Linked DNA regions of Homo sapiens. The protein of the gene in region 1 purifies or fractionates together with the protein of each later gene. This does not show direct contact. Each region holds a gene or a part of one and is shown on either strand. Other genes may lie near its edges.

Evidence for each region.
Region 2: the proteins of WDR37 (region 1) and CLUH purify together in Homo sapiens (affinity purification with mass spectrometry; 3 studies listed by BioGRID and IntAct, with this or other methods). This does not show direct contact.
Region 3: the proteins of WDR37 (region 1) and CCT3 purify together in Homo sapiens (affinity purification with mass spectrometry; 2 studies listed by BioGRID and IntAct, with this or other methods). This does not show direct contact.
Region 4: the proteins of WDR37 (region 1) and PACS1 purify together in Homo sapiens (affinity purification with mass spectrometry; 4 studies listed by BioGRID and IntAct, with this or other methods). This does not show direct contact.

What each region holds. Positions count from the first base shown.
Region 1 is NC_000010.11:1,122,376-1,129,403, forward strand, and holds part of WDR37 (WD repeat-containing protein 37), read left to right. Parts: intron 1-1,842; coding exon 1,843-1,977; intron 1,978-2,534; coding exon 2,535-2,649; intron 2,650-6,837; coding exon 6,838-6,969; 3' UTR 6,970-7,028. UniProt on the Homo sapiens protein: Required for normal ER Ca2+ handling in lymphocytes. Together with PACS1, it plays an essential role in stabilizing peripheral lymphocyte populations.
Region 2 is NC_000017.11:2,708,762-2,716,308, forward strand, and holds the start of CLUH (clustered mitochondria protein homolog), read right to left. Parts: upstream 3,004-7,547; 5' UTR 2,901-3,003; coding exon 2,801-2,900; intron 2,493-2,800; exon of another isoform or gene 2,292-2,492; intron 1-2,291. UniProt on the Homo sapiens protein: mRNA-binding protein involved in proper cytoplasmic distribution of mitochondria.
Region 3 is NC_000001.11:156,335,293-156,343,016, reverse strand, and holds the start of CCT3 (T-complex protein 1 subunit gamma), read left to right. Parts: upstream 1-4,724; 5' UTR 4,725-4,832; coding exon 4,833-4,863; intron 4,864-5,227; exon of another isoform or gene 5,228-5,340; intron 5,341-5,467; exon of another isoform or gene 5,468-5,703; intron 5,704-5,776; exon of another isoform or gene 5,777-5,938; intron 5,939-7,128; coding exon 7,129-7,190; intron 7,191-7,724. Other genes in the region: TSACC (TSSK6-activating co-chaperone protein), read right to left, coding at 3,226-3,282, 4,247-4,277. UniProt on the Homo sapiens protein: Component of the chaperonin-containing T-complex (TRiC), a molecular chaperone complex that assists the folding of actin, tubulin and other proteins upon ATP hydrolysis.
Region 4 is NC_000011.10:66,073,246-66,080,273, forward strand, and holds part of PACS1 (phosphofurin acidic cluster sorting protein 1), read left to right. Parts: intron 1-7,028. UniProt on the Homo sapiens protein: Coat protein that is involved in the localization of trans-Golgi network (TGN) membrane proteins that contain acidic cluster sorting motifs.

The DNA.
Region 1 (7,028 bases):
TTTGTGCCCTGGGAGACAGTGTAGGGGTCAAGCCTGTGTCTCTCTGAGAAGGCACTGCCCCTGCGTCTCAGGATCTGCCCACTCTGCCCTGAAGTCAGACCATGCCTTCCTGGGTGGGCCACTCATGCCCAGCTGCATGGCGAGCATGGGGACCCACCCCAGCCCTGAGCCAGGCAGGACGCGCAGCCCCCTGGCCGTTGCTGAAGACAGCAGTGGATCATGCCTGGATTGTGTGCCCTTAGCTCACGGGGAAAGTAAGGTTTTTATCACATTCTTTTTACTGAACTTTGCCAGTGAGCAAAGAGGTGATTGAATTTTCTTCTTCAAATGTCATTTTATTATTTGAGTTCTAAATACCTTCTGGCAAGTGCCAGAGACTTTCCTTTGATCACTGGTTAAGGTAATCACCCCAGCCACTGCCAGCACAGCCTCAGCTGGTGAGGACATGATTTCCTCTGCAGATTTTGCCTGGGTTTCTTCAGTGATTCTCAGTGCAATTCAAGTGATAACATCCTTTGTTTACATGTTTAATCCGATTTTACCACGGGTAAGACTATTTAATATACTTAGCACCATGTCAAACACTTTTTTTTACATTTCAGAAGAAAAGTTTATGAAAGAGTTTAACATAAACTGATGAAACCTTTCTTCCCCCTCTCTTCTTGTTTTTATGGTACTTTTCATCTTTAGGGCGTGGGTCTCCCATCTTAGCCATTTCAGGGCCTCTTCGGTTCCTCGAGCCTCTCCCTGAGGGCCACATATTTCAACACATTTGAATTAAAAAGAAAACTATTAATTATTATTTTGGATTTATAGAAGCAGGTTCCAAGAGTGGTTGTGATGTTGAATTTTTCTCCTCAAACTTTTTAAGATAAAGATTGTGGTTAAATATACATAATATGAAACTTACTATTTTAACTGTTTTTATGTGTGTACTTCAGTGGCATTAAATCAATTCACATTGTTGTGCAACCACCAGCACTATTTCCTATGCTTTTTCATTATCTCAAATGGAAACTCTGCACTTGTGAAACTATTCATGCCCATCCCCCAGACCCCGAGAACCTCTGTTCTACTTCCTGTTTCTCTGAATTTGCCTAGTCCAGGGATCTTAGATGAGGGGGATTCTTGAAAGTTCATTCATGTCATAGCACGTGTTAGAGTTTCTTTTTTTACGACTGAATAATATTCCATTGTGTGTACACGCCGCATTAAATCCATCTGCTGATGGACATGTGGGTTGTTTGCACCTCTTTGGCTGTTGTCAGTAATGCTACTGTGAATTCTGGTGTGTGGGGCTTCTTGGCTGTTTGTATATCTTCTTTGGGAAAATGTTGATCCAAGTCCTTTGTCCGTGTTTGAATTGTTGTCAGAGTGTTTTTCTCTTAACTCCTGTGTTATGATTACATTGATTGAGAGTTGTTGTTGGAATGGATTTCTTTTAAATTCTCTGCTATAGACCAAGATATGTTATGATTACATTGATTGACAGTTGTTGTTGGAATGGATTTTTTAAATTCTCTGCCATAGACCCAGATGTGTAGACATTTGGGCATGTTCTGTCCAACCCTACTTTCTGTAACCTCTCTTCGTTCCGTTGCCTGTAGATGTGGAATAGAGTAGAATGGACTGTGTGTTTCTGATCCACTGGGAAGAAATCAGTTGTCCTTTTCTTGCACTGGTGGAGAGGCTTTGGGAGGCGGGAGCAGTTTGCAGAGGAGAGAGCTGTGAGTTTGCGCTTCTCCGACCTCCTTCCCACCCACTTGGTCAGGGTTGTGTGTGGGGTGTGGTGTCACGTCCTGCACCTGCTGTTGCATCTGACTCTGTGCCCTTTGTTCATAGCACTGTGACTTCTGCCGTGTTCACCGTGGGAGACAACGTGGTTTCAGGCAGCGATGACCGCACGGTGAAAGTCTGGGACTTGAAAAATATGAGATCCCCCATTGCAACTATTCGCACGGACTCTGCCATTAACAGGTAAAGTCAAACTGTTGGTTAAGTAAGTGGCTTAGTTTGATGTGAAAGGATTGATTGTGATTTCATGTTTTATTCATGGAGGTTTAATTGATAGAACCCCGGGAACAATGGTTTAGGCTCCTTTGTCCTCTAATGCAGTTTCAGTATTCCATGAAAACTTAAACTAACTTAGCCTAAAACCAGGTTGGATCAGTGAGATTTGTGAGAATGAGAATGACCCGTTTGTGGCAGACATGCAGGGCTTCTCTTGACTTCTTGTGAGGATTGGTCTTGTGTCTGGGTGGGTCTGGTTCTACCATTGAGCAGTGTGTGTGTGTGTGTGTGTGTGTGTGTGTGTGTGTATTGTGTGTATGTGCATGGGGTCTGTGTGATCTTGTAGCTACGTGTGAGTAACTTGGTCTCTTTTGAATACCGTAAGCAGGTGGTACACGCAGTGTGTTCATGTAGTCGGCCTTGAAATGTGAATAATATGGAACCTCCTGCTTCATTATCTGTCAACTCAAAAACTTACAGTGTCACTGTTTCATGCACAACCCACTTTTACCTCTTCTTTGCAGGATCAATGTATGTGTCGGCCAAAAAATCATAGCCCTCCCCCATGACAACCGACAAGTGAGACTGTTTGATATGTCAGGAGTGCGCCTGGCGCGGCTTCCCCGGAGCAGCCGACAGGTAACAGCACGGTCGGTGAACATATGCAGGGCACAGTGGAGGAGGACGGGTAGAGATATTTTACATTCTCATTTTCTTACTAAGTCTTTGCATGCTAAGTTTTCCTTGGAAATGCTTGAGCTGTATTTAGAGTTCATAAAATTTAAAATTGAAGAAGTAGAGTTGTACACTCAAGTTATTCCACACCTACTTCAGTGTTTTTTTTTTTTGAGACAGAGTTTTGCTCTTGTTGCCCAGGCTGGAGTGCAGTGGCATGATCTCACGGCAACCTCTGTCTCCCAGGTTCAAGCAATTCTTCTGCCTCAGCCTCAGCCTCAATCTCCCGAGTAGCTGAGATTACAGGCATGCGCCACCACGCCTGGCTAATTTTGTTAGTCAGGCTGGTTAGTTAGTCAGGCTGGTCTTGAACTCCTGACCTCAGGTGATCTGCCCTCCTCCGCCTCCCAAAGTGCTAGGATTACAGGCGTGAGCCACCGTGCCCAGCCCAGTGTTCTTAATACCATGATCGGCTTTTCAGTTTACAAATAAAGAAAACATGCAGCTCCTCTGTTTCACAGGCATGCGGAACGAGCTCTTTGGTGCACGTGTTAGTGGTGGTGGCTCTGTGGGGAAGCCGTCTTAGATGTCTGCAGTTGTGTCTGTGCAGATTGGAAGTGTTGAGTGGGCATTGTGGCCAGGCAGAAGCTGGGTTGGTTGTAGGCTGGGGGTCTTTAAGGTGGGACCTCTTCCACCTCCAGCCAGAAGAACACGTTTCTATGGCAGGCTGTTGCGACAGGAAGAAATATATTTAAATGTTAGTTTCTTGTTAGTGAAGGGTTGCTCCTTGCTAACTTCAGAAGACGGCGGAGGGAGTTTCTCGCTATGTGCTGTTCAGCCCACCCGTCCTGGTTGCCTGGAAGGCGCAAAGAGAATCGAGACTCCATGGCACCCGCACAGATGCAGAGGCCCAGGGGGCCTGGGGGCCCGTGTTCAGATTCCCTGGCGGCTCTGCTGTGCTCTGCAGCCGGGCCTCACTATAATGTGGGTGGCGTTTGCTGTTGGCTCTCCCCTGGGAGGTCACAGGGTCAGCTGCGATGCACAGAAACTCCCCGGGGTCAGTGGCTGGTCGCAGTGGCTGACGCCTGTAATCGTAGCACTTTGGGAGGCTGAGGCGGGCAGATCACGAGGTCAGGAGATCGAGACCATCCTGACTAACACGGTGAAACCCTGTCTCTAATAAAAATACAAAAAAATCAGCCAGGCGTGGTGGCGGGCGTCTGTAGTCCCAGCTACTCGGGAGGCTGAGGCAGGAGAATGGCGTGAACCCAGGAGGCGGAGCTTGCAGTGAGCTGAGATCGCGCCACTGCACTCCAGCCTGGGCGACAGAGCGAGACTGTGTCTCAGAAAAAAAAAAAAGAAACTCCCCGTGGTCGAGGCAGCGTCTGCCCAGCCTTGTGCGTAATGGAGGCCCCCCCAGAGGATCCCTCTTTCCTGTCTTCTTTTGATTTTGTTGGAGTACTGTCTGGATACCTGTGTGAGTAAATGGATTTGTTCCCCGAGGCCTCCTGTGGCTGCACAGGGCCACACGCCTGCCGGCAGCTTGGGTGGCCCCCTCAGTGCCTCTGTGGCTCCTTCTGTGGACACCAGCTCATGGCTCGTGGGCCGCAGCTGCTCTGCACGGGGTGTGAGCCTCAGAACCTGCAGGCAGGCCGGGTGGTCAGGGAGGCACGTGCGAAAGTGGGGGTTCTCTCAGCGCAGCAACACCTTTTCTTCCGGTAGCACAGACTTTCTGGAAATGAGCTTCCCTGAGACCGGGTGTCTCTTCAGTCCCCTTCCTGGCATGAGAGTGCACTGTTTGAAGTTAATTATTGAGTTTTTACTCCTCGATACACATCCAAATAGTGGAGTAGAAAAATTTCATGAAATTAGAGTGACTAAAATATGCTTCACAACCCTTAACACAGCCATAAATTGCTTGTCCTGGGGAAGCTTTTCATGTTTTGTTAACAGCTGAGCATCACTCATGTGTCCTCACAGCTGCATCTTAGACACAGTAGAATGTTCTCTTTTCAATGTGCCCATGCGGATTTTAAAATTTCTGTGCAGCATGTAAAGTTTGCATTTTGAAACACAAATTCATGAAAACTATTTGTTTATGACTGTGAACTATGACTTTATTACTTTGAGAGTATTTTCCCTCAGAAAAACGGAATTCTGAATGGTTCTTCTTGGCCTTAATTCTGTGTAGACAGTTTTATTTTCAGTTATCTGTGAACATTCAACTTTGTTGATGTTGTAGGATTCTGTTGTGCCTGGGTTTATTCCCTCCTAAAGTGGTATGTGAAATAGATTTATTTTTAAGATTAATGAATGTGATTTAACTTTATTTAGAACTTGTAACACCTCTTCAGATAAATAAATGTGGTTTTCAGTGTCACAGAACCCTGCTGGAAATCACTGACTTATATTGTCCTTACTTCTTCAGCTGACTGACTTGAAAAAGAGAAAACAAAACACTTATTTGAGCCTTTAAGTAGTGGAGTGAAAGGGACTGATTGAAAATATTTCCCTGTAGTGCTGGAGTAGGTGTCACTTCCCAGCATGAGTTTTGGGAAAGCGAGCTTGGTGGAGAGTCAGGAGGTCCGGGGTCAGGGTTCCTGTGAAGAGCAGGCTCATTGGGCGTGAGGGTCCCTGCGCAAGGGTCTCTGTGACGTGGAGGCTCACGGAGTGTGAGGGTCCCTGTGATGTGGAGGCCCGTGGGGCCCCGTGCTGAGCGTCCTGGAGCACATCACGTGCACTGGGGCTCATGACGGCATGGGGCGTCTTCCGGGTGCATCTGCTTCCTGGGTGGCAATGCTGTGGGCGCATGAGAGATGGAAATCCCATGGGAGCTCTGCCGGAGGTGAAAGCCTGGCTGGCTTTCTTCTGGAAGCTCTTTGGCACTTCTGCAGCGAATGCCTTGAGTTTCACTGTGCAGAGCTCTTGCCCACAGCCTTGGTTTTGCCTCCAGTTAGTGGATGCATTGCTGCTTCCTTTTTTGTGCCTTTTGTAACCCTTTGTTATGTGGTCTTTCTTATAATTATTTTATTTTTCTGGCCTTTTGTGGATGTCTTTCCAGATGTATAAATAGCTATTGTGGTTCTCTCTCCAGATGTATAAATAGCATATTTATGGGGGAATATTTTCAGGAGAACTTTATGCCATTCTTTGAGTGTTTCTTAATCTGTCAACTTTACTTAATACTGACTCACTCTTGTACCTGATGCTGTAACAGCAACGTATCAGAGCTGTTGTGTAGTTTAGAAAATGCAGATGGGTGCTAAGGCACTGCTTACAGATATTCTAAGTGTTGGCTAAGAGCCTGCATCTGCTATGTACATACACACCGATATGCTATTGCTCTGTCACATATTTTGCAGTAACTTTTCCAGCATGCTGATATTTAACTGGAATTGCTGAAGATGGCAGGAATCTACCTAAAAGGCCATTTATTTATCCTTGTTTTATATGACACCAAATGTATTTTTGTAGTTCCATTATTACTGAAGCCAGTTATTTGTTAAAATGCAATTTGAAGTCTTTGAGTGAATATCATTTAATTTACCTCTAAATATCTCCTAGCTTCATTTATTCAAAAATTTCACATTGATCATTTATTTTTTTGTCTGACTGTAATCTTACTCATTTTCTTAAAGAAGGACTCATACAGTGCTTTTGGGCGGGTTCCACCAACCCTCGTGCTCACTGGTGTCTCGGCATCACTCATTCTGGCCTGGCTGCACGTCCTGGCGGCTCTGCCGTGCTCGGCGGTCCATGCTCGGCGGTCCATGCTCGGTGGTCCTGCTCAGTGGTCCATGCTCGGCGGTCCATGCTCGGTGGTCCTGCTCAGTGGTCCATGCTTGGTGGTCCATGCTCTATGGTCCATGGGGTGCTCGGTGGTCCGTGCTCGGCGGTGGTTGGTGCTCGGCAGTCCATGATCTGTGGCCCATGCACGGTGGTCCATGATCTGTGGCCCATGCACGGTGGTCCATGATCTGTGGTCCATGCTTGGTGGTCCGTGCTCGGTGGTCCATGGGACTGATCCTGCACACCATGTTGTTTTCCTATAACTTACGTACTTTGAGTGATGTGGTTATTCATTTCGCTGAGGTCTTATAATCTTACTTTCGGGAATAATGCACTGATTTTGGTTTGTTTGATCATCACTAGGGCCACAGGAGAATGGTATGCTGCTCGGCATGGAGTGAAGACCACCCCGTGTGCAATCTGTTCACCTGTGGGTTTGACCGGCAAGCCATTGGTTGGAACATCAACATCCCTGCATTGCTACAAGAAAAATAAGGACACCGGCAGCCCTTAGTTTCACTGTTTGCCAGCACAGACCTTTGATGGGTGCAGGC
Region 2 (7,547 bases), on another chromosome or scaffold:
CTCCCACTCAGCGCAGCCCACCCACCCCCTCCCGAGGGGCCCGGCAGCACCCACAGGTAGGCTGCACCTGCCTCCTCGTCCAGGCCTCAGCCTCTACTCGGGGGGGGGGGAGCAGAACTATCCCAGTCACAGCACTCCCCAAGGCCTCTACACCCTTGGGCCAATACTCCCTCCTCTCATAGTCCAGGAGCACCTCTGAGGATGTGAGCTTTAGGGGAGGGGAAAAGGAGGTCTTCTGCAGAGCGGGAGAGCCGTGCCCCAACAGCACTCTGCATACACGCAAACTCAGATGCTAGTGAAGAGACAAAGCACACCCTTGCCCCGGCCTGGAGGCGCCGGGAGCTCAAAGGCGGCAGAGAGGAGGAACTAGAAAAGAAACTTAGGCCTCCCAGAGGACCTGTGTGCTGCCCAAGCCAGGCACAATCTCACTCAGAAGACTGTGCCAGGGCCAGGCCACGCCCCAGCCAAGGCCTCAGCAAGTGAGGCTCCAGCAGGAAGTAGGGTCCGAAAAGGTGCATCACCCGTCCCGGGAGCCCAGGGCTTCAGGGAAAGGCAATGGGGCGGGCAGGCGGCCTATGGAAGAACCTACAGACCAGGCACCTGTTTGCCTCCTTCCTGTCCCACCCAGGCCAGAGGCAGGCGTTCAGGGCCTGAGGACAGTTCAGAGTTCCTCAGGCTGCTCTCCCCACATCCCATCCAAGATCCTGTTGCGGAGCTCCCATAAGCCCCTAGACTCCTTCCCCAGCTGCCAGCCTCCTCCTCCTCCCCCTCTGGGCCTCAACTCCAGGGAGCCCTCCCCTGGGCAGAAGGAACCTGACGCACCACTGTGGACCTGAAAAACCTGCCTGTTCTCTTAACCCCTAAAAGCCGCTGTATTCCCAGGAAGGTAACCAACCCTTGCCCCCGACCCTCAATGGCCTAGATCAGCTCCTTCCTAAGGGGGCTGAAGAGCCTTCCAGAGCTGGATCTCAGAGGTCAGAAGCCTTGGTTCTGATGCTCAGGTGGGCCCCAGCTGGGGGGTCTTCATTAAGGCTCCTTCCTTCTTTCAATAGATCCGGGCTGGCTGTAACGTAAGTCCTAGCTAGCTGTACTACCTTCCCAGGGACGTAGGAGCCCATGTCCTGCCCACGAGTATGCTCCCAGTTTCCCCAAAACAAATAGCTGTGCCCTTCCCTGACTCAGTTTACCCCCGACAGAGCCCCCCCACCCCCAGCAGAGTTAGGAAGGGGCTTCACTGACTCCCTCACAGAAATCCTCCAACAGACGCTCGTCAGCCCCCTAGTTCTCAGCACGGGATCCAAACCAACACGCCTGTCCCAGCTTCCTCTGGGCCAGGCCACGGCAGCCTTGGCTTGCTGGCCATGAGCTGGAATCCAAACACTTCCCTTAACAGCTAAATCGCTGTGTGACCTTGGGCAAGTCACTTCGACTCTTCGGGTCTCTGCTAGAGGGGAAATCAGCCAACCTCCTCTCATCCAGCCTGCCCCCACTGATTCAGAGCCACATCAGCACAAAGCCTGGTAGGTTGGGGCGATGAGCATCTGCTCTTCTGCCCAAACCTTGGCCTTGTCTAGACAATCAGCAGTACTGCCCCAGCACCTGTCCCTCACCCCAAGGCAACTCCGCTATGATGGGAACAGGGTCAGAGGGCTGAACGCTGTCCCCATCCTGATTCCCAAGTCAGCCCTGGCGCACTCACTGAAGCTAGGAAGGGAGATGATGAGGCGTTAAGACCACAAGTCCCAACTGAGGACAGTCGACGGAGGAGGGAGGGACTGGGGGACAGGAGTAGCTCTGCACCTCCACTGCCACCCAGAGCAAAGAGGGCCTGAGGAAGATGACGACTGAGGGCCTGGGAAGGGGATTCCAGCCCCAAGGCTGGAGTCTGAGACACGGTGGAGGGAACAGAAGGAAGAGAAGGGGCTCAGGAGAAAGGGAAAGCAGGCCCCACCCGAGACAAGCTGCAGCCACTGCCACAGTCACCACCATACAGCCCCCATGGGGGATCGCTGGGAGCTTGACTCCACACTAACGACCTTTGCCTTAAAAACAGCAACTCTGGTCTGACCCACTTTTCGCAATAAGGCAGGTTAATGATCAAGTTCTGGCACAAACACTTCCCCCTGCCAAGGAGTTTGGCTCTGCCCCATGCAAAGGCAGACGCCCCCTACACCAGGTCGGCCGAGCAGGCCAACACACCTGAGAGTCTCCGCCACAGCCTGAAGACCTGCGGTTATAGCCTGGCCTCAGGGCATGAACCAGGGACGCCCCTCACAACGCACACCCCGCACCTCGTGCTCTTCCCACAAACCAAGCCTGGGAAGCCTCGAGCGGAGCTTCACTCCCAGGGCTGCAGCCCTGCGCACAGGGGATGCCTGGGAGGCCGCCGCGGAGCAGGTGCCGAAGGGGGCTGTCCCGCAAACGTCGGAGCGACCCCAGCTCAGAGAGCTCCCATGCTCGGGCGCAGAGGGGGTGGGGCCGCCGATTCTTTCGGTCTGCGGCGGCGGCGCACCCCGAAACCGCGTGTGCGCGCACGTGTCCCCGCGATGAGGCGCGCGTGTGCCCGCCGAGGGTGCCAGCCGAGGCTGCCCTCCACGGGACCGCACGTGCGAAACCCGGGCCGCAGCCGGGGGCGACTGTGAAGGTGACCTTCAGCGCGGGGGCGACCCGGTGAAGGCCCCAGCGAGATACAACCGGGCCCGACGCGGAGGGAAGGCGGCGATCCCCGCGGAGTCCCGAACCCGCCCGCCCTGGTCCGGCGCCCCCCGCCCAGCGGCCCGCTGGCCCTGGCCCCGCTCACCGGCCGCGCCCGGCCGCCCCTTGCCCCCGGCCTGCGAGCCGTGTTCCCGGGCGCTGTCGGCCGGGGCGGCCGCCGGCAACTCGTCCGTCTTGATAACCATGGTGGCGGGAGCGGGCGTCCGCCTCGGCTGTCCGCGCCGCCCGCCGCGCCACTAACCCAAGTGCCCTGCGCGCCGCGGCTGCTGAGGGAAGGACGGAGTCACCGGCCCACGTGGTGCGCGCCGTGGCCTTTGACCCCGCCGCCGTTTCCCTGCCCCACCCTCGCGCCCGGCCCAGCCCACGGCGGCCCGCGAGGGACAAAACGCGCCGCGCCTGGTTCCCCGCCCACGGACGCGGTGACTTTCCAGAACGTCTTAAAGGCAACGCACTCTGACTCAAGGCCCAGGGAGGCTGGGCGCCCTCGCGGGGCGGGGCCTCGGGGAGACTCCCTGCTGCTCGCTGCCCGTCGGGCGGGCACTGTGACCTTGGGTGGAGACTGGTCTGGTTCTGCCATGGCTAATCCTCCCCTCTCCAAGGATCCCCTGTTTTCTCTTGCAGATTTGCTAAATGACCGCGCAGTCTGTCATCTGCGGTGTTCGCGTGACCCTCAGCGCCCTCCCCACCCGGCAGGCCCTTTCCCGCCGAATGGGTGCGGCTGGATTATTGAGGGAGTGGAGGGTCGCTTAGGGCACGGGCACGAGAGGCGAGGGCGAGACGTGGCTAATGGGGATCAAGAGTCAGAATGGACCCGCCAAACTTTGCCCCGAGCCAGAACGGGCTCCCTACCCGCGTCCTCGACCCATGGGTCCTCACCTCCAGGCTGGTGTCCTCATTTTACAGTGGAGGAGGCCGAGACCAAGGTCACACAGAGAGCAAGGGGTAGAGCCGGGTCTGACTCCATCCACAGCCAGGACGCTTTAACTCGTATTTTTCACTTGGCAGGGGCTTGGCGGGGACGGAACGGTGAGGTCAGAGAATGCTGCAGAGGGGACATTGGGACCAGGTCTTGCAGTGAGTTGAAGTGCTCCAGGCAGAGAGCGCCGGTGGGTCTTTCCTGGCCAGGCCGCAGGGGGCCTTTGGGAAGCACCCGAGGCCTATAACCTTCGGAGCGTTTGTCAAGCTCTAATGAGAACTGGAAAGCTTCAGCTTCCCGAGGTGGGCTGGGAGGGCCTTAGGTAGGGCCTCGCACAAATTGCGAAGGAAAGCCGACCTTGTTCTGGAGAGCACGTGGTGAGGAAAGCCAGCGACTTGATGTGAGCATTTAAACGGGAGGAAGGAAGATGAGAACTGGTAAGATTCTTCTCGGCCGGGCGGTGCAGCGGCTCACGCCTGTAATCCTAGCACTTTGGGAGGCCGAAGCCAGGCGGATGACTTGAGTTCAGGATTCGGAAGTTTGAGACCAACCTGGGCAACATTTCAAAACCCCCGTCTCTACAAAAAATATTGTTTAAAAAAAGCCAGGTGTAGTGGCACGCGCCTGTAGTCCCAGCTACTTGGGAGCTGAGCTGGGAGTATCACTCAGGACGGCTCAGATTGAGCCCAGGAGTTCCAAGCTGCAGTGAGCTATGATCGCACCACTGCACTCCTGCCTGGGTGACACAGACACCGTCTCAAAAAAAAAAAAAAAAAAAAAGCCGGGCGCGGTGGCTCACGCCTGTAATTCCAGCACTTTGGGAGGCAGAGGCGGGCGGATCACGAGGTCAGGAATTAGAGACCAGCCTGGCCAAGATGGTGAAACCCCGTCTCTACTAAAAATACAAAAATTAGCTGCGCATGGTGGTGTGCGCCTGTAGTCCCAGCTACTCGGGTGGCTGAGGCAGAAGAATCGCTTGAACCCAGGAGGTGGAGGTTGCGGTGAGCCGAGATCGCGCCATTGCACTCCAGCTTGGGCAACAAGAGAGAAACTCCGTCTCAAAAAAAGAAAAAAAAAGTGTGCATATATATATATAGTGTGTGTATATATATATAGTGTGTATATATAGTGTGTATATATATAGTGTGTGTATATATATAGTGTGTATATATATAAGTGTATATATAAAATATATATATTTATAATCAATATATATAAAAGTGTGTATATATGTGTGTATATATACACATACATACTTATGTGTGCGTGTGTATATACGTATGTGTATACACACACTCGTTCCTCTTTTGTTACACAAATGTGCAGAAAATTGTACCTGCTATTCTTCACTCTGATTTTTTTTTTACACGCTTTCAGTAGGTGTTCTCATTCCATTTACGCTGGATAATGTTGTATTGTTTGGTTGTACCATAATTCTTTTAGCCGGTCACCTGACTGATGGGTACTTAGTTTGTATTCATGAAACTCCAGGGTTTTTGAGAATTGTGCCTAGTGGCCCAGTGCAGCTGAAGTTGGAAGCCCGTGCATGTTGCTAATGCTACTCATAATAGGAAGCTCAGTTTTAACCCTGGGGGTTGGGGAAGAGCAGCAAGCCTGGGGTTAGAGAAACAGACACGTATAAAAAGCATCATCCAGCCGAGTGCGGCGGCTCACGCCTGTAATGCCAACACTTTGAGAGGCCGAGGAGAGCAGATTGTATGAGCTCAGGAGTTGGACACCAGCCTGGGCAATATGGCAAAACCTCATCTCTACAAAAAATACAAAAATTAGCTGGGTGTGGTGGTGTGCGCCTATAGTCCCTGCTACTCAGGAGGCTGAGGTAGGAGGATCACTTGAGCCCAAGAGGTTGAGGCTGCAGGATCTCGCCACTGCACTCCAGCCTGGGCGACAGAGCAAGACCCTGTCTCAAAAAAAAAAAGAAAGCAAAGAAAGAAAAGAAAAGAAAAAAAAATCATCCTCTGATCACATTCTCCATAGTCTGGTGGTCTGACCTCTGACCACACATTAAGCAGACTGATTCTTGCTTTCACACAGCTTCCACCAAAGTCTTTTCATCATAGTCTTTTTTTGGGACAGCATCTCGCTGTGTAGCTCACGTTGGAGAACAGTGGCAAGATCTCAGCTCATTGCAACCCCGCCTCCCGGGTTCAAGCGATTCTCCTGCCTCAGCCTCCCTTGTAGCTGGGACTACAGGCGCCCGCCACCATGCCCGACTAATTTTTGTATTTTTAGTAGAGAGGGGGTTTCACCATGTTGGCCAGGCTGGTCTTGAACTCCTGACCTCAGGTGACCTGCCCACCTTGGCCTCCCATAGTGCTGGGATTACAGGCGTGAGCCACCGCACCCGGCCTCCATCATAGTCTTAACAGCACATACTCCCATTTTCCCCAGCTATTTCCACCATTGCCTATAACAATGTGCTATGGTTAAGGTGATCGCATAGTTTATCATTAAAACCAGAACACTTTTGAGAGTGCAAGTGGAACCTATTAATAATGACACAGGGGCAATAGGCATAAATTGAGACCCTCTTGGCCATACTGGGATGTCTGGGTCTTGGGTGAGGAGTCCAGCTGCTAGACCCGGGGACTTTGTTATTTTTTATTTTTTTTTGATATGGAGTCTTGCTCTGTCGCCCAGGCTGGAGTGCAGTGACGTGATCTCAGCTCATTGCAACCTCTACCTCCCGGATTCAAGTGATTCCCTGCCTCAGCCTCCCAAGTAGTTGGGATTACAGGCATGCGTCACCATGCCCGGCTCATTTTTGTATTTTTAGTAGAGATGGGGTTTCACCATGTTGGTCAGGCTGGCCTCGAACTTCTGACCTCGTGATCCGCCCGCCTTGGCCTCCCAAAGTGCTGGGATTACAGGCATGAGCCACCGCGCCTGGCCGACCTGGGGACTTCTTGAAGGCAAGAACCATAACTTATTTATCTGGGTGTTCCCAGCATCTTTCCAGAGCCCAATGCATGGTAGGTGTTTAATGCACATTTATTTATTTTTAATTTTATTTTTAGAGACAGGGTCTCATTCTGTTGCCCAGGCTGGAGTGCAGTGGCATGATCACGGCTCACGGAAGCCTCCAACTTATGGGCTCAAGTGACCCTCCCGTCTCAGTTCCCTGAGTAGCTGGGATTACAGGTGCACACGACCATACCCCACTTAATGCACATTTGTTGACTGAGTGAATGATTTCAGTGTAGAAGGTGCCAGGCCCTGAGGGCTCCACAGGATGTGGGGGGGCAGCATTGCTGGCAGCCTGGGGTTTCACCTTTGAGCCCCCCATTATTTATTTATTTATTTATTTTTTGAGACGGAGTTTTGCTCTTGTTGCCCAGGTTGGAGTGCAATGGCTCAATCTTGGCTGACCACAACCTCTGCCTCCCAGGTTCAAGCAATTCTCCTGCCTCAGCCTCCCCAGTAGCTGGGATTACAGGCATGCGCCACCAGGCCTGGCAAATTTTGTATTTTTAGTAGAGATGGGTTTTAGTAGGGTTTTAGTAGAGTTTAGTAGGGTTTTAGTAGAGATGGGTTTAGTAGAGGTGGTTTCTCTATGTCGGTCAGGCTGGTCTCGAACACCCGACCTCAGGTGGTCTGCCGCCTTGGCCTCCCAAAGTGCTGGGATTACAGGCGTGAGCCACTGTGCCTGGCTGAGTCCCCCATTATTTATAACAGTTGGCTTTCCTTTCAGACACTCCTTTTGTGTACTGTATGCTTTGACCTTTGTGTCTAGAACTTCAGATCATTTCCATAATGCCTGACTGAGACCCACCAGCCTGAGCCCACGGAGGATGCCAAGCGGAGGCACCTCTCCCTATCCTCCTCAGGGTCAGTGAGCGTCCGTAAGTGCCTACCGGTCAGCATGGGGATCGGTGACCAGTTTGTCCATGGGCCT
Region 3 (7,724 bases), on another chromosome or scaffold:
GGAACTCCTCCTCAGGAGTCTAGAAGATGAAAAGGAAGTGGCAAAGTAGACAAGGGCAATGGATGGAAAGTCAGACAGCTGGAACTAGGTAAGAATTAAAAAGGCAAGACAGTAGGGAGACAATAATTCACTGTTATAATGAAATCAAGAAAGGATGGTAAAACAATTCATTTTCATCATACACATAAGAGATAGCTAAGTGCCTATGTGTCATCGCTGTGGATACCACAGTTTGCTAAACAGAAGTGGTCACTACTCTCCTGGAACTGACAGTCTTGCTGTGCAGACAGGCATTAGGTGATCAAGCACACATGCTATTACACTTCAGTAAGTGCTATGAAAGCAACTGACCTAGTCTGTAGAGCTGGAAAACATGTCCTGAGGAAATAATATCTCAGCTGGGATCTGAAGGATTAAGAAGGGCCTCTTCATAAAAAACAAGCCTGGGGGCAGAAGTGTGAAAAGTAGGTTGTATGAAGGAAAATGTCTTATTCTTGTTCTTTACTCAGAGGGCAACAGAAGGAATGGCCTGGTAAGAGGAAGAAGTGCTTATATGTGGGTGCCAGGGTGAGATGCTTTCTGTCTGGAAGGTCACTGAGCCTATGAAAACTGAAATCTGTTCTGTCAGTCACTCTTGGTGAGGGAAATATGTTTTTTTGGTTTTGGTTTTTTTCTTTTGCACTGGGTTACTGGGTTTGTGGATTTTCCAGGCTCTACTGGTAGGTCATCCATCTTCTTTTCCCTCCTGCTCCAGAGTCATCAGTCACTTGATGGCTTGTGCAGAATGTGGTAAGGAGACAGAAGTTGAAACTCAGGTCTCAAGATTCTTCTCAATAATGTGTTAATTTCCATGCAAAATGTGTTAATTTCCATGCAAATGCACTTTTAAATAATTTGAGTCCTTCCTGGACATAGGAGAATGCATTTTTTTTTCTTTCTTTTTTTTTTTTTTTTGGAGACGGAGTCTTGCTCTGTCGCCCAGGCTGGAGTGCAGTGGTGCCATCTCGGCTCACTGCAAGCTCCGCCTCCCAGGTTCATGCCATTCTCCTGCCTCAGCCTCCCAAGTAGCTGGGACTACAGGTGCCCACTACAATGCCCGGCTAATTTTTTGTATTTTTAGTAGAGACGGGTTTCACCGTGTTAGTCAGGATGGTCTCGATCTCCTGACCTCGTGATCTGCCTGCCTCAGCCTTCCAAAGTGCTGGGATTACAAGCGTGAGCCACTGCGCCCGGCCAAGAATGCATTTTATACTGGGTTATAAGGTTTGAAGAATGCTTTACACATTTTTACACAAGGTGGCATGAGAAATTAAAAATTGTTTTTTAATTAAAGAAAGAGACTGCTTTACACACACTCTATACTAAAGGAGCTGTATTTCTGACAATGTATAACAGAGGATGAGGGTGGAGAGAGGCAAAAGGAGGCAGAACAGAGGATATGATAATAAAAGGTGCTTTACATACATTCTCTTATATGTTTCTCACAATGACCCTTAAAGTAGGGTCATTGTGGATACCACAGTCTGCTAAACAGATGTGGTCACTACTCTCCTGGAACTGATAGTCTTGCAGTGTAGACAGTCATTAGGTGATCAAGCACACAAACTATTACATTTCAGTAAGTGCTATGAGAGTCTTGTGGCACTGGGGAACGTGACCTGAGGAATGTAGATAAAGTAGGTAGCTTTACCTACATTTCACTTGAGGAAACTTAAGTCATGAAATTTGCTCAAGATTCCACAGTTGATATGTGTGGCTGCATGAATAATGTTTTTTTAGTTAGGCCTAGCTTTATACCCTTAGCCCATCCCTTAGTAGCAGTTAATTTAAATGTTTCGATCTGTTGTGGGGTTAATAGTATTTTCTAGTAGAATCGTGAGCATTAAATAAGTGGTAAACTGGCCAGGCGCGATGGCTCACGCCTGTAATCCCAGGACTTTGGGAGGCCAGAGTGGGCGGATCACTTGAGGCCAGGAGTTCAAGACCTGGCGTAACCCAGTCTGTACTAAAAATACAAAAATTAGCCAGGCGTGGTGGCATACACCTGTAATCCCAGCTACTTGGGTGGCTGAGGCACAAGAATCACTTGAATCAAGGAGACAGAGGTGGCAGTGATCCTAAGTAGGTAAACTGCTTAAGAGGGTCTGGCAAATAGCAGCTGGAATTAAATTTGGTCCTGTAGACTCCAAAGTCATGCTCTTTACCACTGCACTATATACTCTGTGAAAAGAGCCAGTTAATTTATGCCCAAGCTGGGGCTGGGCGCGGTGGCTCACACCTGTAATCCCAGCACTTCGGGAGGCCGAGGCAGGCGGATCACCTGAGGTCAGGAGTTCGAAACCAGCCTGACCAAGATGGCGAAACCCCATCTCTACTAAAAATACAAAATTAGCTGGGCGTGGGGGTGCACGCCTGCAATCCCAGCTACTCGGGAAGCTGAGGCAGGAGAATTGCTTGAACCCGGGAGGCAGAGGTTGCGGTGAGCCAAGGTAGTGCCACTGCACTCCAGCCTAGGCAACAAGAGCAAAACTCTATCTCAAAAAAAAAAAAAAAAAAAAGGCCGGGGGCGGTAGCTCACACCTGTAATCCCAGCACTTTGGGAGTCCAAGGCAGTTGGATCACAAGGTCAGGAGATTAAGACCATCCTGGCTGACACGGTGAAACCCCGTCTCTACTAAAAACACAAAAAAATTAGCCGGGCATGGTGGCAGGTGCCTGCAGTCCCAGCTACTCAGGAGGCCGAGGCAGGAGAATGGCGTGAACCCAGGAGACGGAGCTTGCAGTGAGCAGAGATGGTGCCTCTGCACCCCAGCCTGGGTGACAGAGCGAGACTCCGTCTAAACAAAAAAAAAATTATGTCCAGGCTATGGAATGGTAGGTCTTTCAGATAATCTGATCCAGCTAAAGTTAAGTGGATAGGCTCTGGAGTCAGAAGGCCTCAGGCATTTCCCTGGCCCACCAATGGGGCTGTCCCACTACAACTCAGTATCTCTTCACTCTAGTTAACACCATGTCTTCTAAGATCCTGTACATAGTCTTGTTCTAAGTATTAAGAGGAGATACAAAGGAAGAATAATAAATTCATTTAACAAATAATTACTGAGCATCTACTATTTAACAGATCCAGTTCTAGGTGCTGGGAATACAGCAATGCTCCCATTTAGTGGGGAATGCAAAGGAGGTCTTGCTTTTTAAGGGAGGGGAAGCAGGGCCTCCAACACACACCTTTTCTGTTAGGATGACTAGTGTGCCGCTCCATCTGAACACCAACAGGTGTGGTGCCTGGGAAAGAATCATAGCATCAGATGATCAACAATCCATGTTAGTATTTTCACTATGATAATTTCCTAAGTTGTCTCCAGCAGATCTCAGCCTGTTCCAATCTGCAGAGGAAAAAGTAGGAAACTCTATTTCATGGCCAAACAGGTGACTGTTCTTGAACTGTTGGTGCTCTCACGGCCCCTTCACTAGTTTGGAAAACAGTTTTCCTTTAGTGCTTCCTTTTTTTTCTGGACAAAATAGTAATTTAACCAAACCCAAACCTTAAACGTCTCTGACGAACAGGCAGTTACTTTCCGTGTTCTCACCATGTTTAATTTCCACGGTATGATAAGTCCTTCTCCTATCCCGAATGGTAATTTTAAAACTCTGGCTCCCCATCATCTCTAACTAAGACTCAGGACAGCGGGAGAGGGATGGATGTGGGGGAAAAAAATCTCAAAGCACCACAGGGAATACTTTTTTTTTTTTTTTTGAGATGGAGTCTCGCTCTGTCGCCAGGCTGGAGTGCAGTGACACGATGTCGGCTCACTGCAACCTCCGTCTCCAGGGTTCAAGCGATTCTCCTGCCTCAGCCTCCTGAGTAGCTGGGATTACAGGCGCGCGCCACCACGCCCGGCTAATTTTTGTATTTTTAGTAGAGACGGGGTTTCGCCATGTTGGCCACGCTGGTCTCGAACTCCTGACCTCAGGTGATCCACCCGCCTCGGCCTCCCAAAGTGCTGGGATTACAGGCGTGAGCCACAGCGCCCGGCGGAAATACTTGGGAAAATATTTTAGATAGGATAACTTAAGGAAACGCAAGCCATCACCCTCCGGTACTGCTCACAGCCTCACTGAAAGCATTTCCTAAGAAGGGAAAAGTCCACATACAGCCATTAGTCCAGAGGCGATAAACCACAACTCCCAGTGTGCCCGGAAAAAGGCTGCGCAGTCCGGCCCGGTAAGACTACAACTCCCACTTCACCCTGCGCCAAGCCGGCAGGTCTTTCCCCCATGTGCTGGCTGGAGTCCCGCCTCTCTAGTCCACCTGTTGCTAAGGCTAGACCAAAAGAGTGGGAACTGTGAAGCCTTTCTTAGCCTTCACGGTCCGATAGGAGCCGAGTCGCAATACACAGTTTAACGACCTCACCTGCGGTGTTAACCGAAAGCCGCAACCCCAGCACCCAACCCTAGAGTTGACACACATGCGTAGTGGTGTGCTGGCCAACTGCCAGAGCCTTGGCGCCTGCGCCGACGTTCGCGCTGCACGCGGCCGGGAGCGGCCACCCTACTGCGCAAGCGCCTGTGCCCTCCCAGTGCCTTCGTCGTGCGCTCTCTGTCTAACTTGTCTGGCCGTTCTTGCGTAGGGGGCGGGACTAAGGCTGTCAATTGGTCTGTTTTTGTGCCGATCAATGAGATGGGTGCGGTGATTGGCGACTACCTTGAGAGTAGCGGGTTGAGGTGTAAGCCCTGAGGAGGCAGCGTTTTCTGGGCTTCTGTCTGGTTCTCTCTCTCCAGAAGGTTCTGCCGGTTCCCCCAGCTCTGGGTACCCGGCTCTGCATCGCGTCGCCATGATGGGCCATCGTCCAGTGCTCGTGCTCAGTGAGTTCTGGGGATGCCAGGAAATGGACCCCCTTTTCGCCCTCTTCTGTCCATACTTTTCAGTGTTGCCCCAGCTCCGTCCCCCACTGACCGGGCCACTGAGCCTTCCAATCATCGTCTTCATTTTGGAAGCCCAGTGTCCCGCTTTCCTCTCTTCTCTTAACCTGTTCGCTTCTCTGCACAAACTCAAACTGGCCTTATTCTCGCCGAGCCTCTTTCCTTGACGTGTGCTCGTCTTGGGAAGCTCTTTCCCACTCCGCGTTCTGTCCCTCAGCCCCCACGCTTCCCCCGCCCCTGCGCCCTTTCTAGCCTGATTGTCGCTATGTAGCTGCACGAATAACGTTTTTTTTTGTTTTTTTTTCAGTTAGGTCTAGCTTTATATTCTTGGCCCATCCCTTAGTAGCGGTAATTTAAATGTTTCAATCTGTATTACGGAGTTAACAGTATTTCCTAGTAGAATTGTGAGAATTAAATGAGGTAAGTCGGTAGACTGCTTAAAGAGGGTCTGGTAAATAGGTAATATCCTTGGTCACTTTACGTTACATTTATTTTCAGTAACAGTCTCTTGAACAGCAATCCCTTTTCCCGAAGTAACCGTACTTGCCTCACTGATCTTAGATGTAATCGTTCCCTCCGTGTCCCCGGCGTTGTACTCTTTCCCACTAACCAGTTGGGTTTTCCCAGATTTCTCGACTGGTCACCTTTTCCTTTTGGAAGATCCCTTATTTTTTTTCTTTTTATATTTTGAGACAAAGTCTCGCTCTGTCACCCAGGCTGGGTTGCAGTGGCGCGATCTCTGTTCACTGCAACCTCTGCCTCCCAGGTTCAAGCGATCCTCCTGCCTTAGCCTCCCGAGTAGCTGGGAGTACAGGCGCGCGCCACCACGCACGGCTAATTTTTGTATTTTTGGTAGAGACGGAGTTTCACCATGTTGACCAGGCTGGTCTCCAACTGCTGATGAGCTCAGGTGATCCGCCCACCTCGGCCTCCCAAAGTGCTGAGATTACAGGCGTGAGCCACCGCGCCCGGTCCCTTATTTTTTTCTGATGAGCACCACCTCCATTGTCTTCCTTTGGTATGTTTCCATTCTGTGTGTAACTTCTGTACCTCATCTGCAGAGCCTGGCTAGCCATCTCCCCTCCCTTACCGTCTTCTGTATACTGACTGCCTTTCAGAGTTATTATTCATTATCTCTGTACCTGGGAAATAACTTTTAAGGAAAAAAATAAAATAAAAACGCTATTTTGAAAAAAAAAAGCCGCCTTCTTTCTGATGGATTGTAGGTCCATGCAGGTTTTTGGTTACAGCTCCCTGAGATAGATGTAAATCCTAAGCATTGTGGGTGTTTTGGTTTGATGGGACTGGATTGAAAGATTTACAGACTTAAATTGTAAAGGAAGGTAATTTAGAGAGAGGAAGGAAATAAACATTATGTTGGTTTGGTTATAACCACTGGCTTGTCTCCACTGACATGGCCTGGGGGTGAGTGGTGTATTTGCAAAGCTCCTTTCAGGTCTGCATTAATCTCTGGCATTAGTTGGCTGTGACCGATTAGCCTCCCAGTTAAAGTATGTAGTCAGTTCTTAGTGATGGTAAATGGGTTACTGAGGCCTTCTTATTACATCCAATTATGAGGTGACTATATAATTTATCTTGCAAACTGTTGAGTGTGTTCTAAACAGTATGCTGTGGGGGCGCTATCACTAATTATGCTGGACCTGTTAGAGTATGATCCCCCTATCCAAGCAGAAAAATGTGAATCCCCAAACTCTTTCCCTGCTTACGCAAAGCAATGAATGGTCATTTCTTAGGGTCACCAGCCCTTTGAGAATCTGATAATAGTTGTGGATCCTCTTTCCGGAAAAAAAAAAAATTGCAGTATCTCTCATTTTCTCACATAATCTCAGGGAGTTCGCTATCCCACTAAGGCCCATTCATAGATCTCAGGTTATGAATCCCTGCTGTAAATATAGGAATATTTGGTTAGAAGAAAAGTATTAACCAAGATTCCAAAGTTATTTCTTAATATACCAAGGATTGAAATACAGAAGGAAGTTAACAGCCATAAGGACATATGTTTACAGTTTTTTGAGATATGGTTGACATATAATAAACTGCACTTATTTAAAGTGTAGAGTTTGATAAGCTTTGCTCTGTGGATATACCATGAAACCTGCATTCTTATTTTTCAAAGACGGGGAAATAAATAGCTTGTGTACGATGGGGCAGTCCTGGGCTGTTGACTTGTGTTTTTGTCTATTTTAGGCCAGAACACAAAGCGTGAATCCGGAAGAAAAGTTCAATCTGGAAACATCAATGCTGCCAAGGTCACAAATCTTTTAAGTGTTTATGGTAGTTTGCCTCCAGCTATCTTTCCTGGTATTTGGTCATAGCCATGTGTCCTGTGCATCTAGACTTTATAGAGTAGGCAAATAGGCAGAGGAAAAGTTGACCTCTTTCAGAACATTTTCCTGATGATGTTAGGGGAAAGGAAGCCCTCCCCTTCTGAGTTAGGACTGATAATCTTCTCGTATTAACTTGTGCATTATTCTGTTGCTGTGTATTGTTTTATAGTATTCTATTTGTGTTTGTCTCCCATACTAAACTGAGTTACTTGAACATAAGTACTTTATTCCCTTTTGTATTCCTAGTGCCCACCGTAGATCTTGGATAGATATTCGGTAAATGTCTTTTGAATGAAATAGTGAAATAGCCTTATATCTGATTTAGGATGGTGTAGAGGCCACCGTCATGGAAAGAAATACTAAGACATGGACTTCTAGTAATTAGGACTGCTGGGAAACAAGCTCTGGGAGCCATTTCCCCCTTATTCTTGTGAAAAGTCATTTCTGTATCCATTC
Region 4 (7,028 bases), on another chromosome or scaffold:
TAGAGTCATCTGGTTAATTTGAGGTCTCCTGGGTGTCCTTGTTCATGTTGTTTAGAATATATAGGCAACATGCAGCACTCTGTGGAGGGATTAACATTCTTGTCTCATGTAACTCAAACGGGACACAAATATATGAGATACATGCCCCTTAGAAATGTAAACATGATTGTGGATCTAAGGTTAGGTGTGCATAAGAATGTCATGGGATTTGGTCTCTTAGGGCAGAGAAGAGGGGCTCGAACAGTACAGTGTTAGGAAGGTCCTGCTGCTTTTCTTGATGCCTGTCAAAATATAATTTTCTTTTGAAAAAAATACCGTTTCCTGTATTAGATATTTAAATAAAGAGCAGTGTAGTTGTTCTTCAGGTAGGTGTCTGCTCTTATTTAACATCTGTTAAATTCCCCCAGAATACATAGTACTTTTGAAAAACTTTATATAGGTGAATAGCTTACTCACAGCTGGTTTTAAAAGAATGAAATTGTTCTGTTGATCACATTTTTCACCAGCATTTTTTGTTTTTTTTCTTTAGATGGAGTCTTGCTCTGTCATCCAGGCTACAGTGTAGTGGCACAGTCATAGCTCACTGCAGCCTCCAACTCCTGGGCTCAGCAATCCTCCAGCCTCAGCCTCCCAAGTAGCTGGGACTATAGGCATGTGACATCACACCTGGCTTTTTTTTTTTTTTTTTTTTTTTTTTTAAAAACAGGGTCTCACTATGTTGCCCAGGCTGGTCTTGAACTCCTTGCTTCAAACTGTCCTCCTACCTCGGACTCCCAAAGTGCTGAGATTACAGGTGTGAGCCACTGTGCCCAGCCTTTTACCAGCATTTTTTTTAAAGACAAAATGATTAATATATGTCCATGATTAGAAATTTGAGCAGTATGGAAAGATGGAAAGCACAAAGGAAAAAGCCCCCAGTCCATCCCTCTTCTCACTTCCCAGAGGTAATCACTGTGAAATACAGTTGGCTTTTAAGATTCTGTTACAAAAAGGTAGTTTTGCTATAGTTCCTTTATCTTTTATGAAATTCAAGCTTTAGAAGTTAGCATTGTTTTCCCTTCATGCTAAGTAGTACTTCCTCTACTATGGTCCAGTATGGCATGGACCGTGGTGCAGGGTTATGGGGACCAGGTGGCATGCTGCTTGATGTTAAAGGAAGGGTGTTAGAGCCTCATTGTTGATCCCTTCCCTTCTGCCTTTGTATGGTGAGGTTTCCCTGATGTTCTTTTCTTTTTGTGTTGCTGTAAGTAGGAGAGGCAGAAAAATTACTAAATTTTACAAGCATTCAAAATTTCCTCAGTGGCATAAAAGTGATTATTAAGAGATGAAATGTGCTCTGCTGTATCATTCGCAAACCATATCCAAAGCCCATTTGCATACCCTTATGTGTATGTGAACTTAGGGTAGGAGTTGGCAGTTATCAGTCACTTTTCTCCTTAGGTCACATTTTTTTTAAGTGGGTGCTGAGGTCAAGCCTTAATGGACAAAAGCGTTGGAATCACAGAAGGTGGCCATAGCTGAGTTGGCATGACTGGTCTGCAGCAGAAGTGTTACTTTCATGAAAACGCTTGGGGGCATTTGCCCCTTTAACCACAGAAGCACTATACGAGCCAAGATATACTACTCTATCTTCTTACTATATACTAGGACAAACTCTTCCATGCATTAGTTTAATTTTATTAATTTTTTTTTGGTGTTTTTTTTTTTTTTTTTTTGAGATGGAGTCTCGCTCTGTCGCCCAGGCTGGAGTGCAGTGGTGCAATCTCGGCTCACTGCAAGCTCCGCCTCCCAGGTTCGCTCCATTCTCCTGCCTCAGCCTCCCGAGTAGCTGGGACTACAGGCGCCTGCCACCACACCTGGCTAATTTTTTGTATTTTTTTGTACAGATGGCGTTTCACTGTGTTAGCCAGGATGGTCTCGATCTCCTGAGCTTGTGATCTGCCCGCCTTGGCCTTCCAAAGTGCTGGGATTACAGGCGTGAGCCACCATGCCCAGCCTTTGTTTTGTTTTTTTGAGACACAGTCTTGCTTTTTTACTCAGGTTGGAGTGCAGTGGCACAATCACGGCTCATTGCAACCTAGACCTCCTGGGCTCAAGCATTCCTCTCACCTCAGCCTCCTGAGTAGCTGGGACCATAGGCACTTGCCACCATGCCAGGCTGATTTTAAGATTTTTTTGTAGAGATGGGGTCTTGCTGTGTTGCCCAGGCTGGTCTCGAACTCCTGGGCTCAAGTGATCCTCCCGCCTCAGTCTCTCGAAGTACTGGGATACAGGTGTGAACCACTGTGCCTGGCCCATGCCTTAGTTTTTTCATCTTTATGGGAATACTTTTACTTACCATCCATTCTTAGATGTGGATGAAATATATATAAAATTGGATCTATAGAAGCATGGGAGAAAGTATTTCTTAAATTATAGGTATAAAGTAAATGTAATTGATCAAATAAGAAAGACCTGATGAAATTTCTATTACTACCCTAGCATTAAAAGTCCTTTTTTTTTTTTTTTTTTTGAGACGGAGTCTCGCTCTGTCCCCCGGCTGGAATGCAGTGGCGCGATCTGGCTCACTGTAAGCTCTGCCTCCTGGGTTCACGCCATTCTCCTGCCTCAGCCTGCCAAGTAGCTAGGACTGCAGGTGCCCGCCACCACGCCCAGCTAATTTTTTATATTTTTAGTAGAGACGGGGTTTTACCATGTTAGCCAGGATGCTCTCGATCTCCTGACCTCGTGATCCACCTGCCTTGGCCTTCCAAAGTGCTGGGATTACAGACGTGAGCCACCGCGCTCAGCCACATTAAAAGTCTTAAAAGCATGTTTGTACCTTAGGAGATTTGAATTTCACATTGTGAGTGTTGTAATAGAATATCATCTCTATCAGGGTAATAGTATCCATCGTCCCTGTGGAAGCTCAGATTACATGAGTTAGAAAGATAATGACTTTCACAGAGTCCATTTTACATGTATTGATTTACAGATCTTTTGGACACCTTAGCGGTTATGTGATTTCTTTCTAAACTAGTTTTCCAATTTCTTAGCTAAGCCAGTAAGTTGTCACTGTTGTTGTAGGTGCTGGAATGAGGGCGGGTACGCCTCAGAAAATGTTAGAGCTGCGTCTTTTCACTACCTCAGTTCAGGAGGCTTGTCCAGTTTGGACTTGGACTTTTTTTTTTTTTGAGACAGGGTCTTGTTCTGTTGCCCAGGCTGGAGTGCAATGGTGCGATCTCGGCTCACTGCAACCTCCGCCTCCCAGGATTCTTGAGCCTCAGCCTCCCAGGTAGCTGGGACTATAGGCGCACGCCACCACACCCAGCACATTTTTGTATTTTTAGTAGAGACGGGGTTTCCCCATGTTGGCCAGGCTGGTTTCGAACTTCTGACCTCAAGTGATCCGGCGGCCTCGGCCTCCCAAAGTGCTGGGATTACAGATGTGAGCCACTGTGCCTGGACTGGCCTGGACTTGAAGGTGTTGATGTAGATGCCAGCATGCATCTACATGGTGGGTCCTCTGAAATTTGGTGTTGGCCTGGCTTGCACCCATGTTGTCACATTCCGGAAATTCCGTGGGAATCTAGCGTAGCTGTGGGAATGATTTGCCAACGTTGGTCTTCTTCCAGCACAGGGCTTGAGGTGATATTGAGGGCTCTTGAGGAAAGTCAGAGTTTGGAGTTGGACTTAGAACTTCTTTCAGAGGGCCATCAAGCAAGGTGGGCAGTCTCTTAGGTTGGCAAGCACTGACAGGGTCTTCTTTGTGGACCTAGATAGAGGAATAACCAGCTTCCAAAGGTTTTAGAGACCAAGATATGCACCAGCTCTAGAGTGTTACCCCTTATAGATGTTCACAGGGCAGTCAGCTGGACCTGTGTTCCCCGTTATCTCATTAAAAACCAGAGAATGGCTTTGGTCACAACTCAGGGATCGCCACTTAGGCAGACCTGCACCCTGCCTCTTGACCTTGGGAATCGCAGTAGAACAGACAGCTAACCAATGAAACACATCTAGAAAACTTCTAGAAAATAGTTTATTAAAACATTCCAAGGCTGGGCGTGGTGGCTCATGCCTATCATCCCAGCACTTTGGGAGGCTGAGGCGGAAGGGTCACTTGAGCCCAGGAGTTTGAGACCAGCCTAGACAACATGGCAACCCCTCTCCACAAAAAATAAACAAAATTAGCCAGGTGTGGTGGCGTGCGCCTGTGGTCCCAGCTACTCAGGAGGCTGAGGTGGGAAGAGCACTTGAGCTCTGGAGGTCGAGGCTTCAGTGAGCCATGATCTCGCCCCTGTACTCTAGCCTGGGCAACAGAGTAAGACCCTGTCTCAAACAAAAATGGGTGAATAGAGAATGTTCTAAGTCATTACTTTCCTTGTGTTGAGGTAGATGGTGAGGCATAGGTGATAAAATAGTGTTGATGGCAGGTTTGTTTATTTAATTTTGTGCAGATCCTTTTAAATTGTAAGTTTGTTTTTTTTTTTTTTTTGAGACGGAGTTTTGCTCTTGTCACCTAGGCTGGAGTGTAAAGGCGCAGTCTCGGCTCACGGAAACCTCCGCCTCCGAGGTTCAAGCAATTCTCCTGCCTCAGCCTCCCGAGTAGCTGGGATTCCAGGCATGCACCACCATGCATGGATAATTTTGTATTTTTAGTAGAGACGGGGTTTCACCATGTTGGCCAGGCTGGTCTCGAACTCCTGACCTCAGGTGATTCACCTACCTCAGCCTCCCAAGGTGCTGGGATTACAGTTGTAAGCAACCATGCCTGGCCAACTGTAAGGTTTTTAAGGTACAACAAAGGTTGGAATATTTGAGTTTAGTGCTAGCTTCAACAATTTTTCTGAATCTCAAATATCGTTCTTCCTCTTTTCTCCTTGTGAGTAATGATCTGTGTCCACTCTCAGATCAACCTGGGCTCCCTTCATCCTTTCAACACTTTCAGTACTTTTAGTTTTGTAAATACAGTGGTATCCACAGGTCATTTTGGCAAAAACACTTTTTAGAACTGTATGCGTCTTAGAAATTGTGATGTGGGTAATTTGCTGTGTATGTTTTTTAGTGACCTCGTATAAATATAGGTAGATGTGAAAGGAGTGACGCCTTAAATTTGCTCCCTACTGTAACACCTGTTCCCTTCTTTGTAGTCTGTGTAACTCCTCCAAATGACAGATCTTTTGGACACATTAGTGGTTATGTGATTTCTTTCTAAACTAGTTTTCCAAACTACCTCTCAAAACTTTATTATGAGTAGGATTTCCCCCAGCTAACATTTTGGGTATGACTGGCATGTTAATTGTCTCTGAAGGATTTTAGACTGGTTATTTTGTTTTTGATTTTGAGATAGGCTCTCACTCTGTTGCCCAAACTGGAATGCAGTGGCATGAACACAGCTCACTCTGTTCAGCCTCAACCTCCTGGGTTCAAGTGATCCTCCCTCCTTAGACTCCCAAGTAGCTGGAACCACAGGCACATGCCAACATGCCCTGCTAACTTTTTAATTTTTTGCAGAGACAAGGTCCCACTATGCTGCCCAGGCTGATCTCAAACTCCTGGGCTCAAGCAATCCTCCCGCCTCAGCCTACCATAGTGTTGGGATTATAGGCGTAAGCCACCGCACCCAGGCTAGGCTGGTTATTGTGCTGAGATATAGGAAGGCGTTTTTTCTTTTCAGCTGTTTTCTTTTCTTTTTCTTTTTGAGACAGAGTCTTGCTCTCTTGCCCAGGCTGGAGTGCAGTGGCGCTATCTTGGCTCACTGCAACCTCTGTCTCCCGGGTTCAAGTGATTCTCCAGCCTCAGCCTCCCAAGTAGCTGGGATTACAGGTGCATACCACCATGCCCGACTAATTTTTGTATTTTTAGTAGAGACAGGCTTTCACCATGATGGCCAGGCTAGTCTTGAACTCCTGACCTCAAGCCCGCGTCAGCAGATTACTGGCGTGAGCCACCGCCCAGCCTCTTTTCAGTTGTTTTTCTGAAACATTGTGTGTGTTTGTGTGTGAGTATGTGCACTTCTGTATCTGTCTGTGAGTTTTCTTTTGTTCCTCTTGGTAGGTGAGACATTCTTTGTAGCAGGTTTTTTTTTTTTTTTTTTAATAGTTTATTGCTGGGAAAAGGTCTGGGTAAAAAAAAAAAAAGTTTAGAACACACTAAGGCTTGGGGCATCAGTCATCATTTACTGATCCCTCCTCACTAACCTTTTCCTGCCTCTTGTTTACAAACACCAAATGGCTTCAGGGTTTAGGGAGCAGCTTTTCCCTTCTGTTTTTCTGTTTTATGGTACCTCTCAAACACATTGCATTGTAATCCCTCCCAACCTCTGCCACCTTAGTCCTTCCCAGAAAGTAACCACTAGTGGCAGTTCAGAGTGATATTTTAAAATGAAAATCAGAACTTGTCACACCCCCTCTATAATCTTCCAGTTCATTCATTCAGCAAAAGCTTATAGACCAGCTGATATGTGCCGCAAGCAAAATCCTTGATCTCATGAAGTCTGCATTCTAGTGGGTGAAGATAAGAGACACCATCCAGTAACTTTCCGTCATACTTAAAAAAGATCCCCTTTTCATGGTTCAGGAGATGCTAAACGATGCAGCCCCTTCCCATGTCTTTGACCTCACCTTTGCGTTCTCCCCTTGTTCCTGCGGTGGGTCACCCTCGCCTTAGGGCTTTTGCACTTGCTGTTCCCTCTACCTGTGATACCCTTTCCCTGGATCCTTGGATCGCTGAGACTAGCTCCTGGGTATCATTCAGCTCTTCACTGACCTGCTACCTTGGAAGGCTGTCCTCACCTGCCCAACCCCTTCTGGGAGTTTATAAAGCTACTTCACACCTACTCGCCATTACTGGAAATAATCTTGTTCCTTTATTTAGTTACTTTATAGATGCTCAATAACTACATTTGTCAAATCAATGACACTGATTTTCCTATAGTGTTTTATAATGTTTATTGAATGACTATCTGTTATGCACAATTCATCCATTCACCAAATATTTACTGAGTGTTTCTGTGTGCCAAGCACTGATCTAGGCTCTGGAGAAGCAGC